2 linked regions of the Homo sapiens genome follow. The protein of the gene in region 1 purifies or fractionates together with the protein of each later gene. This does not show direct contact. Each region holds a gene or a part of one and is shown in the gene's direction. Other genes may lie near its edges. The genes, in order: LOXL1 and KCNIP1.

Region 1 (3,816 bases):
GGATGGAAATGTCTAGAATACAGGGCATTGCCCAGTGAGGCCATTACAGGTGGGAGCCCAAAAAGGAAGTGAGGGGTCTAGAGCATGTGCTGTCCTGGAGTGACCCAGCTAGGTGGGGAGCACAGAGGGGCCACCCCGCAGTACTCAGGAGACAGGAGAACCTAGACCAGCCAGGAGGCTGTGCCACAGCAGGGTCACCTGAGCCCATCTCAGGATGGGGACAGGATGAGAGGCCCAGGGAAGACTAGGCCCTCTTCTTTCTCCTTCTCTCCTCTGCCCCTAGGCATTACCACAGCATGGACGAGTTCAGCCACTACGACCTACTGGATGCAGCCACAGGCAAGAAGGTGGCCGAGGGCCACAAGGCCAGTTTCTGCCTGGAGGACAGCACCTGTGACTTCGGCAACCTCAAGCGCTATGCATGCACCTCTCATACCCAGGTTGGGCTGGAGAGATGGGGTTTGGGGCATGGGAGGATAAGGAGTTGGGGAGGCAAAGAGCGAGGCCCGCTGAGGCCCGGCAAGTGCCAAGGCTTCTGGCCACTCAGCTCTGCTCACAGTGAAGGTCTTCTCACCAGTCCTCAGGCTGCCACACTGCCCTGCAGGGACTGTTCCCTCCCTGCCCCAGCCCCTTTCCCATGTTATTCCAGGTGATCTGCTCGTGGAGAGAAGGAAACATCGCAACAGTCTGGAGAGCAACACGTCCTATTGGCCTGTTCACCCACCCATATCCCTCTTTCCATCAGCCACCCTAAATATCCACAAACTGTCCATCTGTCCTGTCTCTTTTTATCCATTCTGCCATCCATCTCGTCCCTCCCACCTGGCTATTAGATATCTGTCTTTCCTCTGGTCCATCTAGCCAGTGGCTTTAGGAAGGTGTGGACCCACCCTGAGCAGTTGCCCTGGGCCAGGGTCAGGGGAGAAACCCAGGGGAAGGTGGGCCAGAAACTCCTGAAGGTGGGCGTGGGGTGGCTCTGGGAAACAAGCAGCATCACAGCCGCTCCTCTTGTCCCTTTCCCAGGGCCTGAGCCCAGGCTGCTATGACACCTACAATGCGGACATCGACTGCCAGTGGATCGACATAACCGACGTGCAGCCTGGGAACTACATCCTCAAGGTGGGCCTCTGGGTCTGGGGCTTTCCCTCCAACCTGATGTTCATGTCCAATGTCCCCCCGTTCCTGAAAGAAGCTTCAGCCTCTGGGCCTGTTCCCTTCTCCCCAGCTGCCGAGCAGAGGCAGCATCTGAGGCATCACTTGAGGTTTAGGCTTCCCAGCCGAAGATTTAGGTCTCAGGCTGACATAGCCTCTCTTTCCATAAAGAACCCAGGGAACCTTTGCCCCAGCTGTGGTAATGCCAGAGGCAGTGGTGATACTGTCTCCCTAAGTGACAGAGGACCAGGGAGAGCAAGAAAGACTTGGAGAGCCATGTGGTCTATCTTCCTGTCTTCGGACAGGGCAGACTTTGTATCATTTGGGAGACAGATGAGAGGCCCTCAGCTCCTTATAGGGACCCCTGCAAAGCCAAGGGCTCCTGTGACTAAGACCCTTTTAGCCTGAACCCCTCCTGCTCTAATGGACACTCACTCCATCACCTCTTCCCTTGGTTGAGGGAAAAGTAGAAAAGCATATTAACAACACACATCCAGACTTGGTACATCCGTGTAGGCCAGGTTGTCATGGGCCCACCTGGGGAAGCCATGTCTCAGCCTCCTCCACACAGGTATAAAATGAGTAGGGATCATTCCACCAGTTCATCTGGACCCACTCAGAAGCAGAAAAGCAGCTCAGTAAAGGCAGAGCAGTGAAGCCAGGTTTGCAGGCGGAGGCCTTCCCTGCAGAAAGTCAGCAGGTGGAGAGATGCATCCGGCAGCGGTTCTCTGCAGTTCCCTCCTGAGTGCTCTTCAGCAGGCTCCAAGCTTGCTCCTCCAGGGCCTGGGGTTGTCCAGTATATTTTTTCTTTTCCTCATTCATCCACTCAATCAACATGTAGGAAGTCCCCTCTGAGTTCTAGGCACTAGACACACAAACCACATAAGCAATGCAGTTCACAGTCCCTGCCCTTTGGGAGTGTACCAGGATTTGAAAGTTGCATCCCTGCATCTGTTCTTAGATGTTCTGCAAATAAAGCTGGCCCTACCCTAGTTAATCCAACATTTAAAAGTGTTGTATCCCAACAGCTCCTTTTCAGACAAAAAGCACAGATCATACTTGGGCCATCATCTCAGTGAATGTTGGGCACGTGGGGCTCCAGAGCAGGGGATCAGACAGGCCCTCGATCAGTCACCTAGACAGGGATGCATAGGGAATGACTTTGAGCCTTGGATTTGGGGAGACCAGGTGTTGAATCCTGGCTCAGCTCCTCATTACTGCATTCCCTCGGGCAGGATCCAACCTCTCTGACCCCAAATGCCCCATGCGGGGCCCACCTGGCATAGGCTCTAGCTCTAGGGAAACATCCAATCTTCTGATAAGGGGGATTAGATGATGTTTTCTTGGATTACCAGCTGCCTCTTCTTTCCCCTCTGTGTCTCTCTAGCAGTGTGTCTCTGTTCTCCCTCTCTCTGTCACCTCTCTGTCTGTCTGTCTGCCTCTTTACCACCTTCTCTGGTGAGCAGTTGAGGTGCAGCCCCCCTGACTAGACTCCCTTTCTCCCTGTTTCTCTTCTTCCTCAGGTGCACGTGAACCCAAAGTATATTGTTTTGGAGTCTGACTTCACCAACAACGTGGTGAGATGCAACATTCACTACACAGGTCGCTACGTTTCTGCAACAAACTGCAAAATTGTCCAGTAAGAGTTTGCCCACCACCCTTCCTGGCTCCGTCCCTTTCCTGCCTGGGGAGCAGGCAAGGCCACCTGAGATACCTAAGATACCTGCACTTTAGGTCACCTTGATGGCCGAACGCAGCTGCAGCAGGGCCCATCAAAAAGAGCCTTGTCCGTGCCAACCCCAAGCTGAGTGTTTACGGTGGGGCTCAGGCCGTAGGGTGTTGATCTGGGGCTGCATCCTGTGGCTCCCTGAGATGTCCCAAGTGAAAACCAGCAGAAGGCAGAGTCATTTGATGCAAGGCCATGAGCTCTGCAGTCCCAGTTCCACAGCTTCCTCGCTATGTGACATTGGGTTACTTCCCTGAGCTACTTTCCTCAACTATAAAATAGGTATTTCCACATAGGCTGGCAATGAGGATCTACAGGCCTGATGTCTGCATGTTCACAGTGGCACACAGTGAACAGCAGCTGTGATCATTAGTGTCCTTTTCAAGTGGACTGGATTAAACAGTCACAGATTAGAAGTGATTCTGGTTCAAAGGAGCCATCTTCAGTCCCTAGGCCCCCATTGTAGAAGAAGTGCCTAAAATCTGGGCTTGGGATTTTGGCACATGCTGCTGGGTAGGGTCCTCAGTCTTTCTCCTGATTCCCCATGTGAAGTAGTTTGCAGAGGGACCCCTTGCTTACAAGCTCACAAGGAAACCCCACCACACTCCAGATCGAAGCAACCCTTTTCCATTAAAAAAAAAAAAAAAAATTAGTCCTAGAGCTTTCAGCTTTAGTTCATCAACTGGGAGAAAGGTGGTAGAGATCTTAAGGCCCAGAGAGGTATCTTTCCCTAAAAGTGTGTACTTATTAATGGATGGCAGGTATGAGAGATTAAGCCTATGACTATGGTCAGGGTGTGGTGTATGGCCAGGGTCAGGATTCAGTCTGTGACAAGGGTTAGGGCTCAGTGTGTGACAAGGGTTAGGACTCAATGTGTGACCAGGATCAAGGCTCAGTGTGTGACCAGGATCAGGGTTCAGTGTATACCTAGGGTCAGG
Region 2 (3,816 bases), on another chromosome or scaffold:
GGGAAACAAGTGCTGTTTCTTGAGTCGGAAAGAGTCTCTCAAGCTCCCACAAAGAAATTTCCCGAGCTTGTGAGGAATTCAGTCACAGGAAGATCAAGGAATTAAGTGTACTGCAAAAAACCCTTCATGCTTCTGGCTAAGATAAATCTAACAGTGTACTGGATGTCTTCAAGAATACCTCATTTACTCAAAAAATACAATATTCCCATTTTCTTTATTTGCATTTTAATGTGATTTTTGCTTCATCTCCTTTCTTCACTCAAGCCACCTGGGCCGTACCCAGGGAATTCCTAAGGGGCAAAAGGAGGGATGTGAAAACCTCTGCAGCCCCTTCGGAAGTTTCTTGTGAATATATGCACAGATAAACAGATGTGCATTTTAAAAATAAAAATGCTTTTAGATCTAATGCTAGGAGATTCAAACCAACAATTAATTTCTCTGTTAAAATGGGTTAAAATAGATGTAAAATATTAATATGTATATAAGCATTCTGAATTAGACTTATGTGAATTTTTCTCCTTTTCTTTCTTTCTTTTTGAGAATAAGCCCTTTCATTTACGTAGAAATGCTTCAGCGTTTAGATAATTGCTACTTATCTTGTTAGCTACAAACACAACCATAATTAAAGGCTCTGTAAGAATTATGAATTCTGGGGAAATTGGCCACTTGTCTCTGTGGCGTAAACAGTATCTAATTTATAACAAATCATCTGCCTTAGTCCCAGCAGGATAAGGTGATATGTATTGCCCAGCACATGAGAAAGATGGCAATTAGGAATTGTTACCAAGTTACGGGAGCCTCACACGAACATCCATCACCTTTGGGGATATGTACAAGATACAAACTTAATTTGATGGATTCCTTTTGTATTGGGATCAAAGTCTCAAAAGGGAAAGTGACAATTTCAGGGAAAATCTGGTGCAATGAGACCAACACTGATGAGAGAAATGCACACAATTTAATACACCTGCTCACCTGATGTGGCAACTCAGCCTGTGCTTGCTGTGGGTTGCCACAGGATGAGACATGGTCTGTGCATATTCCCAGCAGCCACCCATCTCATCACTATTCTTGCCAGCCCAGATTTACAGTTGTTCAATAGATGGATTTGGTAATATCTGCATGACAACAACAGGCAGAGAAGGTTAGATGGCAATTGATTCTTGATTGGTGTAAGTTTATAGAACACATTCTGGCAGGGCCCAAAGGAAATCACTCACCTACCCCTCTGTGATGGTAAAACGTTGAAAATTCCACGGACTTGGACCTTGTGATCCTTCAGTGGAAGATGGGCAGATTCCTTGCTTTAATTGACAGACACTTTCTAAATAACTAATGCAATCTTATATTACATTATAGTCCATAAGGGAGACATACTTAAACTACTACTTACAACAACTGTTTTTAGAGCCTTTCAAATGGTTTGTACAAAGTAGCTCCCATTTAAGATATTTTCCTAGTATTTAAGGCTATCTAGTAGACATTACAAAACAATACGCTGTAAATACATTCAGATTTTTATCAGTAATACTTAACATGCCGTAATTTGAACTTTCTGCTAAATCATGCTATCCATTCCTAGTTGGCCCCAATGGTGAGAGTTTACTGTTTCTTTAAATAATTTTGTTTCCCTTTGCTGTCTAGAGGTGTTTATCATTCTGCTTACTTGCCTGTGTCTCTGGAATATTCAGAAGGTTCCATGGGAAACAATTTGAATATGCAAAGAAGTTATTTTTAAAGCAAGGAAAATGTTTTCATATGGATTTATTTTGAGCACTTCTGCCTTTGCCTCCACTGGGAACATGTTTCTCTCCAACGCCGAAGCCCCCTCCCTGTGTGGTGTTTGACGCAGAGGCTGACAGGGCAGGGAAGTGGGGTTCAAGATAGGAAGGCCATTGGCAGTGTGACCCCAGCCCACAGTCCTAGATCCCAGGTCGTGACACCACTCTTTTGACAGCCCAGATTGTTACCTAACAAGAATGACTCCCAAGCTCAACCATTCCAATGCCATCTCCTCTGGTTCCAGATAAGATTGAAGATGAGCTGGAGATGACCATGGTTTGCCATCGGCCCGAGGGACTGGAGCAGCTCGAGGCCCAGACCAACTTCACCAAGAGGGAGCTGCAGGTCCTTTATCGAGGCTTCAAAAATGTAAGACCCGTGCACGCTCTGAAGGCCTGGGGGGGGTTCCCACGTGAGGCTACACTCTCCCCAATGCCAAGGGAGCTCATAAGGCGTTTCCCATATGTGAGGCTGTACAAGGAAGGCCAGCTCTATAAAGGGGGCATGAGAGGGAGATCACCTGGCTAGAAAGGAAGGCTCCAGGCGAGGATGGAGCAACCTCAGGAGACAGTAAACGGCCAACTGCCCAGAAATTTCACAGGGTGGCACATCCTCAAGGAATTCACCCTGGCCCAGGGTCAAGCCTTAGCCCTTAACATAATCATACCTTCCAACCTGGTGGTGCCCCCACAATAATGGGATTTGGCCCTGCTGACTTATGCTAACCAGGCTCACCGAGACTGATGTGTAAGCCGAATGTCGGTGTATTAATTTACCTTGGGAAATGGAACTGACAGTGGAAACAGACACTCCTCTCCCTTCGCTGGGACCCGCTCTCCTTGGAAGCCACATGGAAGCCAGGTTACAATCAAAAGTGGAGTCAGAGGACGGGAGTTCCTTGTTTAGTTGTTACTTTAAATACATTAATGTGTTCCTGCAGTCTCAGGCCAGTTTGAGAGCTCTCAGATACAATCCTGGATATTAATTTATTTTTTAAGTTTAACTCTCAGAGTGCAATCTTATTCCCAAATCCTGGAGTGGTGTGGAGTGGGGTGGGCTACAGCGACATGCACCTGGTCACCCTCCCTCCAGGTGCAGTCTGTAGGTAGAGCTGAGCTGGGTCAGTTCCAAACTGACCACAGCCTCAATGTTCTCCAAACTGCTGACCCACAGGGATTCCAGCCCCTCCTGGGAGTTATCTGACAGGTGCTGGGATGCCTCTTCCTTCCACACTAGCCTTGACTGCACATGCCAAGTGCCCAGTTTCCTACCATTAGGGCTTCTTTCCTTCGATGGCAGCATTAGCAGTGGGCAGCCGAGTTGGAGAAGGATCCTGTGGGAAAGTTTTCCAGGCAGGCACTGGGCTCAGAGGGAACAGCATCCAGAAAAGAGAAGAAATCTACACTGCTTGGCATCTACCATGGACTCAATACCACCTAACATAGGTTCATAAGATACCCTTGGGGAAGTTATTGTTACCCCCATTTTACAGGTAAGGATATTGAGGATCAGAGACTGGCTTGGCCAAAGTCACAAAGCTTAGTATTGGCTGAGCCAGGATTTAAACCCAGGTTTTTCTGATCTTAAAGCCCCAAATCTCTCCACCTCACAGTGCCCATTCTCTGACAATGTCTCATCATTTTGCAAAGCAGCTCCAGTCCTGAGATGGCACTACTTGGGAGAAGTGGAAATGCACAGGTCCCTGTCCCTGGGGATCATGAGGAACCCCAGACACCAAGGCTGGGCCCAGTCTTCTCCTAGTGCTGGCCCTCAAATGCCTCCCGCTGACTCTCTCCCCTTCCCACAGGAGTGCCCCAGTGGTGTGGTCAACGAAGACACATTCAAGCAGATCTATGCTCAGTTTTTCCCTCATGGAGGTGAGTCTGACCTTGAAATCTATCTTGCCCAGCTCCCTCTCTGGTAAGCAGCCTTCCCTTCCTCCAAGTCCTCTCTTCCTTGCCATTTGCTTCCTTCTCGAGGAAGAGACAAACTCAGGGCAGGACACCTCCCTCATCGTGAGAGGTGGGAGTCTCC

The links.
Region 2: the proteins of LOXL1 (region 1) and KCNIP1 purify together in Homo sapiens (affinity purification with mass spectrometry; one large-scale study listed by BioGRID and IntAct). This does not show direct contact.

What each region holds. Positions count from the first base shown.
Region 1 is NC_000015.10:73,946,784-73,950,599, forward strand, and holds part of LOXL1 (lysyl oxidase homolog 1 preproprotein), read left to right. Parts: intron 1-283; coding exon 284-440; intron 441-1,023; coding exon 1,024-1,119; intron 1,120-2,675; coding exon 2,676-2,791; intron 2,792-3,816. UniProt on the Homo sapiens protein: Catalyzes the oxidative deamination of lysine and hydroxylysine residues in collagen and elastin, resulting in the formation of covalent cross-linkages, and the stabilization of collagen and elastin fibers.
Region 2 is NC_000005.10:170,716,732-170,720,547, forward strand, and holds part of KCNIP1 (A-type potassium channel modulatory protein KCNIP1), read left to right. Parts: intron 1-2,026; coding exon 2,027-2,151; intron 2,152-3,589; coding exon 3,590-3,659; intron 3,660-3,816. UniProt on the Homo sapiens protein: Regulatory subunit of Kv4/D (Shal)-type voltage-gated rapidly inactivating A-type potassium channels. Regulates channel density, inactivation kinetics and rate of recovery from inactivation in a calcium-dependent and isoform-specific manner.